2 linked regions of the Homo sapiens genome follow. The protein of the gene in region 1 purifies or fractionates together with the protein of each later gene. This does not show direct contact. Each region holds a gene or a part of one and is shown on either strand. Other genes may lie near its edges.

Evidence for each region. Proteins that work in one complex are often made in the same cells at the same time.
Region 2: the proteins of METTL5 (region 1) and USP36 purify together in Homo sapiens (affinity purification with mass spectrometry, with the first as the bait; one study listed by BioGRID). This does not show direct contact.

The regions. Positions count from the first base shown.
Region 1 is NC_000002.12:169,818,352-169,822,002, reverse strand, and holds part of METTL5 (rRNA N(6)-adenosine-methyltransferase METTL5), read left to right. Parts: coding exon 1-60; intron 61-729; coding exon 730-911; intron 912-2,359; coding exon 2,360-2,442; intron 2,443-3,651. UniProt on the Homo sapiens protein: Catalytic subunit of a heterodimer with TRMT112, which specifically methylates the 6th position of adenine in position 1832 of 18S rRNA.
Region 2 is NC_000017.11:78,799,315-78,802,965, forward strand, and holds part of USP36 (ubiquitin carboxyl-terminal hydrolase 36), read right to left. Parts: intron 3,542-3,651; coding exon of another isoform or gene 3,222-3,541; coding exon 3,010-3,221; intron 455-3,009; coding exon 353-454; intron 1-352. UniProt on the Homo sapiens protein: Deubiquitinase essential for the regulation of nucleolar structure and function. Required for cell and organism viability.

The DNA of each region.
Region 1 (3,651 bases):
TGCAGATCTAGGATGTGGTTGTGGAGTACTTAGCATCGGAACTGCAATGTTAGGAGCAGGGTACGTAATGCAATATATGCTATTTGGGTATTGGGTGGCTTTAATAAGGAGCATCAATGGGATTAACTGAATTATATTTATGAGACTCCACAGAATGAGATATAGGGAGCAAAAATCTGATACTGAATACATTTTGAATGGGCAGAAGATCTAAACAAACTACAAAAATTAAATAAAAATGGTGAAAGCAGCAGTTCCTTTTATACAAACCTGAGTTTCCAACCCCTGCCGGGTTTGGAAATTATGCTGTTACACTTGACTGGGCACAGTGGCTCATGCCTGTAATCCCAACACTTTGGGAGGCCAAGGTGGACAGATTACTTGAGCCCAGGAGTTTGAGACCAGCCTGGGCAACATGGTGAAATCCCATGTCTACAAAAAATACAAAAATTAGCTGGATGTGGTGGTGTGCGCCTGTGGTCCCAGCTACTTGGGAGGCTGAGGTGGGAGGATTGCTTGAGCAGTGCAAGATGGCACCACTACACTCACCTGGGTGGCACAGCAAGATCCTGTCTGAAAAAAGAAAAAAAAAAAGAAGAAAACACTCACTCTTACTTTGCTAATTGGGTTAAAAAGATATATGGTTTAAAAAAAAAACAGCTAATTTTGGTTTTGTTTTTACTTGGGAGCTATAAGTCGCCACTCTTTGTATGTGTTTTGTATTTATAGGTTGTGTGTTGGATTTGACATAGATGAAGACGCATTGGAAATATTTAATAGGAATGCAGAAGAGTTTGAGTTAACAAATATTGACATGGTTCAATGTGATGTGTGCTTATTATCTAACAGAATGTCCAAGTCATTCGATACAGTAATTATGAATCCTCCCTTTGGGACCAAAAATAATAAAGGTTTGTAACAAGAATCGGGTATATTGGTATATTTATAGAAAAGATTTTAAAACCATTTTTAAGGCCAGGCGCAGTGGCTCAGGCGTGTAATGCCAGTGCTTTGCGAGGCTGATACAGGAGGATCATTTGGGGCCAGGAATTGGTAGCCATCCCGGGCAACATAGTTAGACCCTGCCTCTACCCACACACACACACACACACACACAAATTTTAATTTCCCAAGTGTGGTGGTGCACCTATAGTCCTAGCTACTCAGAAGGTTGAGGTGGGAGGATCACCTGAGCTCAGGTATTCGGGGCTGCGATGAGCCATGAATGTGCCACTGCACTCCAGCCTTGGTAACAGCAAGACCCTGTCTAGAAAAAATTAAACAAAAATAAAAACCATTTTTATCACTGTTTGGGCTAAGTGATTTTATCACTCTTCATTAAATAAACCAAGGCTAAGTGATGTTATTACTCTTCATTAAGTAAACCAATCTCTTATTTGTATAGTTCTTATAATTTACATTTCAATTTGTTTAATGCATGGCTAAGAAACTGAGTTTTTCAACTTTCATTTTTACAAATTTGTATTAAGTAAACAAAGATAGTCATGTCATTTATTGTATATCTCCCATTTGCTTTCAGGAATAATTTGCCTAACCCTTATGAATGAATACGAAACATAGAAAGAATTTTATACTTTCAGAATCTGTTTTTTAATGTCTTAACAGACCCAAGGGTTTCTACATGTGCCCATCAGTAACAGTGACTCACCGTGGCTGTTAATTTTGTGTGTACTGTGGGCAAGGAGGTTAGGAAGTCAGTGAGGGTAGGAAAAGACATGCATAGTTTGGCCGGGCGTGGTGGCTCACGCCTATAATCCCAGCACTTTGGAGGCTGAGGTGGGTGGATTACCTGAGGTCGGGAGTTTGAGACCAGCCTGACCAACATGGAGAAACCCCGTCTCTACTAAAAATACAAAATGAGCCAGGCATGGTGGCACATGCCTGTAATCCCAGCCACTAGGGAGGCTGAGGCAGGAGAATCACTTGAATCCGGGAGGCGGAGGTTGCGGTGAGCTGAGATCATGCTATTGCACTCCAGCCTGGGCAACAAGAGCGAAACAAAAAAAAAAAAGACATGCATAGTTTAAAAAGTACCCTGCCCCCACCAAGATGATTCTGAATAGTACTCTATGCATTTCCTTCTCCCCTTTTTGAAGTCATTAATGTTGGAATATAATATTAAAATTTTTACTTTATCCTTATTTAACCAAGACAGTATAATTCTGGTTTTATTCTACCAGCCTTAAAATAATATTTTGATAGTTTATTTGTACCCTTATTGCTAAAAGATTTCAAGGTGGCTATTTTGAAGTTTGGAAGAAAATATTTCTAAATCCTACTAACTTAATCTTCTGTTTTGAGAAGAGGTAAATAGGAGCTTTTTTTCTACTCTTCACAGGGACAGATATGGCTTTTCTAAAGACTGCTTTGGAAATGGCAAGAACAGCAGTATATTCCTTACACAAATCCTCAACTAGAGAAGTAAGTTCAAATCATCTGATATTCTGTGGCATTGATTTTTAAATTCATGACAGTGTTTTTAGGATTTGCTGTGAATACTAGATACCACAGTATCTATTTCTCCTGACCATTTTGACATGTGAAACTTAAATTTTCCACTTAACCAGCTAGCATCTGATTGGCCTTTTTCCAGGCTATAAGACTTATTTCCTCAAAGATTTTTTTCAGACAGGAACTGTTGCCAGAGGAGAGACTATAACTCAGGAGTAGAAAAGTGTGTTGTAACTAGGATTACTGTATGTTTTGGTTTCTCTGAGTAAGTCTTAGTTGATCCCTTTTGTCCCATTGTCCCGGTGTGGCCTGATGTACTTAAGGGAGGCAGTAAGGCCAGGTTTTCAGAACACTTGAGCCTGGAGCTAAACAGATCTGAGTTCAGAAATCACCTATTCTTACTTTTGCAGCATATAACACATGGAGAGGTGTATAAGTTGTAGTCCAGGAAACTGGGGGAAGGGGCAGTACATTTTTTTAGTGTCAGTATAACACAATAGTTAGGAACAGAGATTCTGAAGCCAGACCAGATTCTCTGGGTTCAGATCCAAGTTCTGCTGCCTCCCAGCTGTTTTCTTGGTCAAGGTAATTGAGTTTCATCATCAAGGTAATTGAGCTTTTGTCATCTATACTATCCTCACCTGTACTCTAAGTGTAAGGGACTGAGAGTACCAATTGTACTTCATAAGAATTGTGAGGATTACATGAGTTAATATTTACAAAGCACTTAGATCAGTGTCTGACATGTGTAATTGCTATGTGTTAGCTATTATTATTTAAATCATACATGTATTCAAAGATTTTAAAGTGCTTTTGTAGGAAAAATACTTAATTCATGTAAATACAGTACGTAAGAACCCAGTTGGAAATAATACATTCTAGTTACATGGTAATGTGATAACCTTTTAAAAAGCATAAAATATAACAGCTAAAAAGAACTATACTGCTAATAATAAGTAGTGGTACATGTAGGCAAGCAACAGGACACAACATAGCTAGTAAATAAATCCTCACTCACTATATATGAAAGCAAACACCAGTAAACATTGGTATCCAAACCTGTGTCCCCAAGAACACCCTCAGGTTTGATGATTCACTAGGAAATCTCACAGGACTCAGCATCTAGTCTTATTCATGGCTATGATGTATTACAGTGAAAGGATATAGAGCAAAATCAGC
Region 2 (3,651 bases), on another chromosome or scaffold:
CGAAGTCTGAATAAAAACATGCTCTGAGCAAGAAGTGACATTACCCAGGTTGGAAGAGCTTCGTCACTCTGCCCCTTCCCTACCCAAGACACAGCATGTGTGGGGCTCCTCACCCTGCCCCAACCCTCAGAAGCAGCTGTTCTGGATCCTGCCACGGACAGAAGCCACCTTCGTGCCACGGCTGAGGGTTTAAAGAGGACTCCAGCCAGTGTTGAGATTCCTCTTCCCATTCTCAAAGCCGAGCGATGCCCGCCCGCCACACTCACAGTGCACCAGGATCCATTCCACACCCTTCCCTCCTACAAAACCAACCAATGAAAGGCAAACAGAAGTCCTGTCTCCAAATCAGTACCTTTTCTCCCGTAAGCTTTATCAGATGAGTATTTGAGCAGTTCCTGGACCACATCAGACTCCCGCTCTCCATTCCAAGACACAGGAGGGGCCTGGCTCAGCCCTGCAATCGGAGCAGCCAAGAAACATTTACAGACGTTTAAAATAACCCACTGGGGAAGCAATCGCACACCTTAAATTATAAAACAACTTACAGTAAGTGGATGCTTGCCTTTTTTTTTTTTTTTTTTTTTTTTTTTTAAAGACAGGGTCTCACTATGTTTCCTAGGTTGGTCTCAAACTCCTTGGGACTCCCACTGGCCTCCCAAGGTGCTGGGATTACAGGCATGAGCCATGGCGCCCAGCCTAAATGCTTATTTACTAATGCTTACATGCTTAATTTACTAATGACCTGACACAATAGAGAAGGCTGTTGTCCAAGTCAATTCATGAGAAAGAAAACATGGAAAATAACAAAAAGCTAAAAACCAAAAAAAAAAAAACCCTCCAAAACCCCTTTAACCAGTAGTGTTAAGTCCTCAGTCTGACAGAAGGAGAGAAGAGAACTAGATCTAAATGGAATCCACCTCACCTACGGGAGAGGCCCATGCCCCAGGACCAGCCTGACACCTGGATGGCCACAGGGGTGGAGGGAACGGCCAAGCTTGGCTGCTGCCATCAGGGGCCCGACCTCCTAAGCCCTGTCCAGGGGGAACCTGGTCCCCATCAGCAACACCGCACAGGTCCACCCAGCACCTCGGGACCAGGACAGCACTCACCACCCTCATCGGGTTCTAGAAACCCTTTCTGAACTCGTCCTCTGCCCAGCTAGCCACATAGCCCCTGGAATATACTCACCTCCCTTCACACAAATCTGACCTCATTTCTCCCTGCCTCCAATTCCTCAGTGAGCTCCAGGCTAAGTGTCCCCTGCCCCCACACAGTGGCTTCCATGGTTCCCATCTCATCCACACAGCCCAGGGACCCGGCCATGCAGAGCAGCCTGCCTGCTCCCAACGTGCTGCGCCTCCTGCCCTTGGGTCTGGTGCCCTGCCCATTTAGCCACTCTCCTCAGGTGCACAGGACTGCAAGAGCCCATGCGGCCCCCAGCGCCTCCTTGCTGAGCATGAGCCCTTACTGTGTGGTTCTGGCTCTGCCAGGGAGCCCCGAGGGCCCAGGGCGCACTTCAGTAGACACAACCAGCACCTGGCATGGACCCTGGCGCACCGCAAGTGCTCAAGTGATGTCCCTTGCACTAACAAGCCAACTCCACTTCGCTCCGAGGGTGGCACGGAGCACAGCTCTGGTGCCATGTTAGGGCAGTATTTTTTTTTTTTTTTTTTTTTTTTTGAGACGGAGTCTCACTCTGTCACCCAGGCTGGAGTGCAGTGGCGCAATCTCGGCTCACTGCAAGCTCCGCCTCCTGGGTTCACACCATTCTCCTGCCTCAGCCTCCCGAGTAGCTGGGACTAGAGGCGCCCGCCACCATGCCTGGCTAACTTTTTGTATTTTTAGTAGAGACGGGGTTTCACCGTGTCAGCCAGGATGGTCTCGATCTCCTAACCTTGTGATCCGCCCGCCTCGGCCTCCCAAAGTGTTGGGATTACAGGCGTGAGCCACCACCCCCGGCCAGGGCAGTACTTCTGAGAGCATGCTGGCCAGCAAACTCAGTCGGCACTAGCTAGCACCCACGTTTTGCTATTTATTTCATACCATTTCATTTTTAACGATAAATTCCTTTCTTAAGAGTTGGATAAATACAAATCAGTCTCTAAGGTCCTGCTGACCCCCAGATGCACTGCCATAATCAGACCTTCCAGACTGCAGAGGAGGCCTCACTCAAGCTCGGCCCCCTATACCAAGCAGCCAGGACTTTCTCTCCCCTTCACTTAACAAATGTGTTCTGTGGCGGGTGCCTGCCAAGGCATGCCCCAGCCAGCCCTAAAGAAAACAAAACACCCTCCGATTGAGGGGTGGTGCCCAAGGACAGCCACAGCACACAGGTCCCCAACAGCAAGCAAACCGTGCTATGTTCTGAATGGCCCAGCTACATAGAGGGAGAGGAGGATTCACTTTTGAACCCAACTCTTCTAAATTCAACCATCACAGAAAAAAACTCAGGCTGGGAGTTCAGGGAGTCATTCCGTGAGAAGCTGTAGACAGAACAGCTTTGAATCGGAAGACCCACTGGCATTCACAGAATGTTTTAAAGTTCATGTGCACTGTAACCTCTCTCATGGGGCTGTTTCAGTCAAATGCTGTGACACATGAGGAAGCTTCAACCCCATCACCCAAGGGAGCAGACTCGGGGGTGGGGGGTGAAGGTTGGTAGGGTCCCAGGGCCCTCCACATCTTCTCCCAGACCCTCCCAAGCTCAGATGCAGTAGACGCTGCTCTCAGCCTGTGCACTCCCCAATACCCCCTCACCCGGTGCACACCCACGCGGTCCCCCACCCCCTTGCCCGGTGCACACCCACGCGGTCCCCCAACCCCTCGCCTGGTGCACACCCACGCGGTCCCCCACCCCCTCGCCCGGTGCACACCCACGCGGTCCAACCCCTCGCCCAGTGCACGCCCATGCGGTCCCCCAACCCCTCGCCCGGTGCACACCCATGCGGTCCCCCAACCCCTCGCCCGGTGCACACCCATGCGGTTCCCACCCCCTCGCCCGGTGCATACCCATGCGGTCCCCAGGACACCAGCCATTCGCGGATGGTGCGCAGCTGCTGGACTCGGGGACAACAGCATCTTGGGGCTTGGCACTCCTTGGGCATTTGAGATGCCCATCCTCTTCTACTGCCCGCTGTGTCTCCTGCTTTCTTTTTTTCTTTTTCTTTTTCCTTGGAGACTCTTCCATGGCCTCTGGATCACCATCACCCATGGGAGAGCAGCTGCTTGGAAGTGAGAGGCAGCAGTCAGCTCTGAGCAAATTGGAAGGGGAGCAGGAGCGCACAGACACCCGCCTGCAACATGGAGAAGGTGCCACCCCAGCTGTGACCCAGTGCACGCAGGTCCCTGCAACATTCTTCCCCCCACACGCATTAGCGGACGCTCCACACGCAGCCACGGAGACAGTAGAGGGAAAACCAGTCGCGTTTCCCATCCTAACTGAGCCAAGCCTGTTGACGCCAATGTGCAGGCTACTGTGACCTGATGAAACGGCAGATCCTGGCCTGGCCCGGGACACCTGATCCAGCATCCTTGAACGGCCCTGCACATACAATGATGGACACTACTGTCCACACCACTGTCGCTTCAAGGATCAATCCACTGGTATTTATCAGAGGAGATATTTTTTCTTTTTTCTTTTTTTTTAGACAG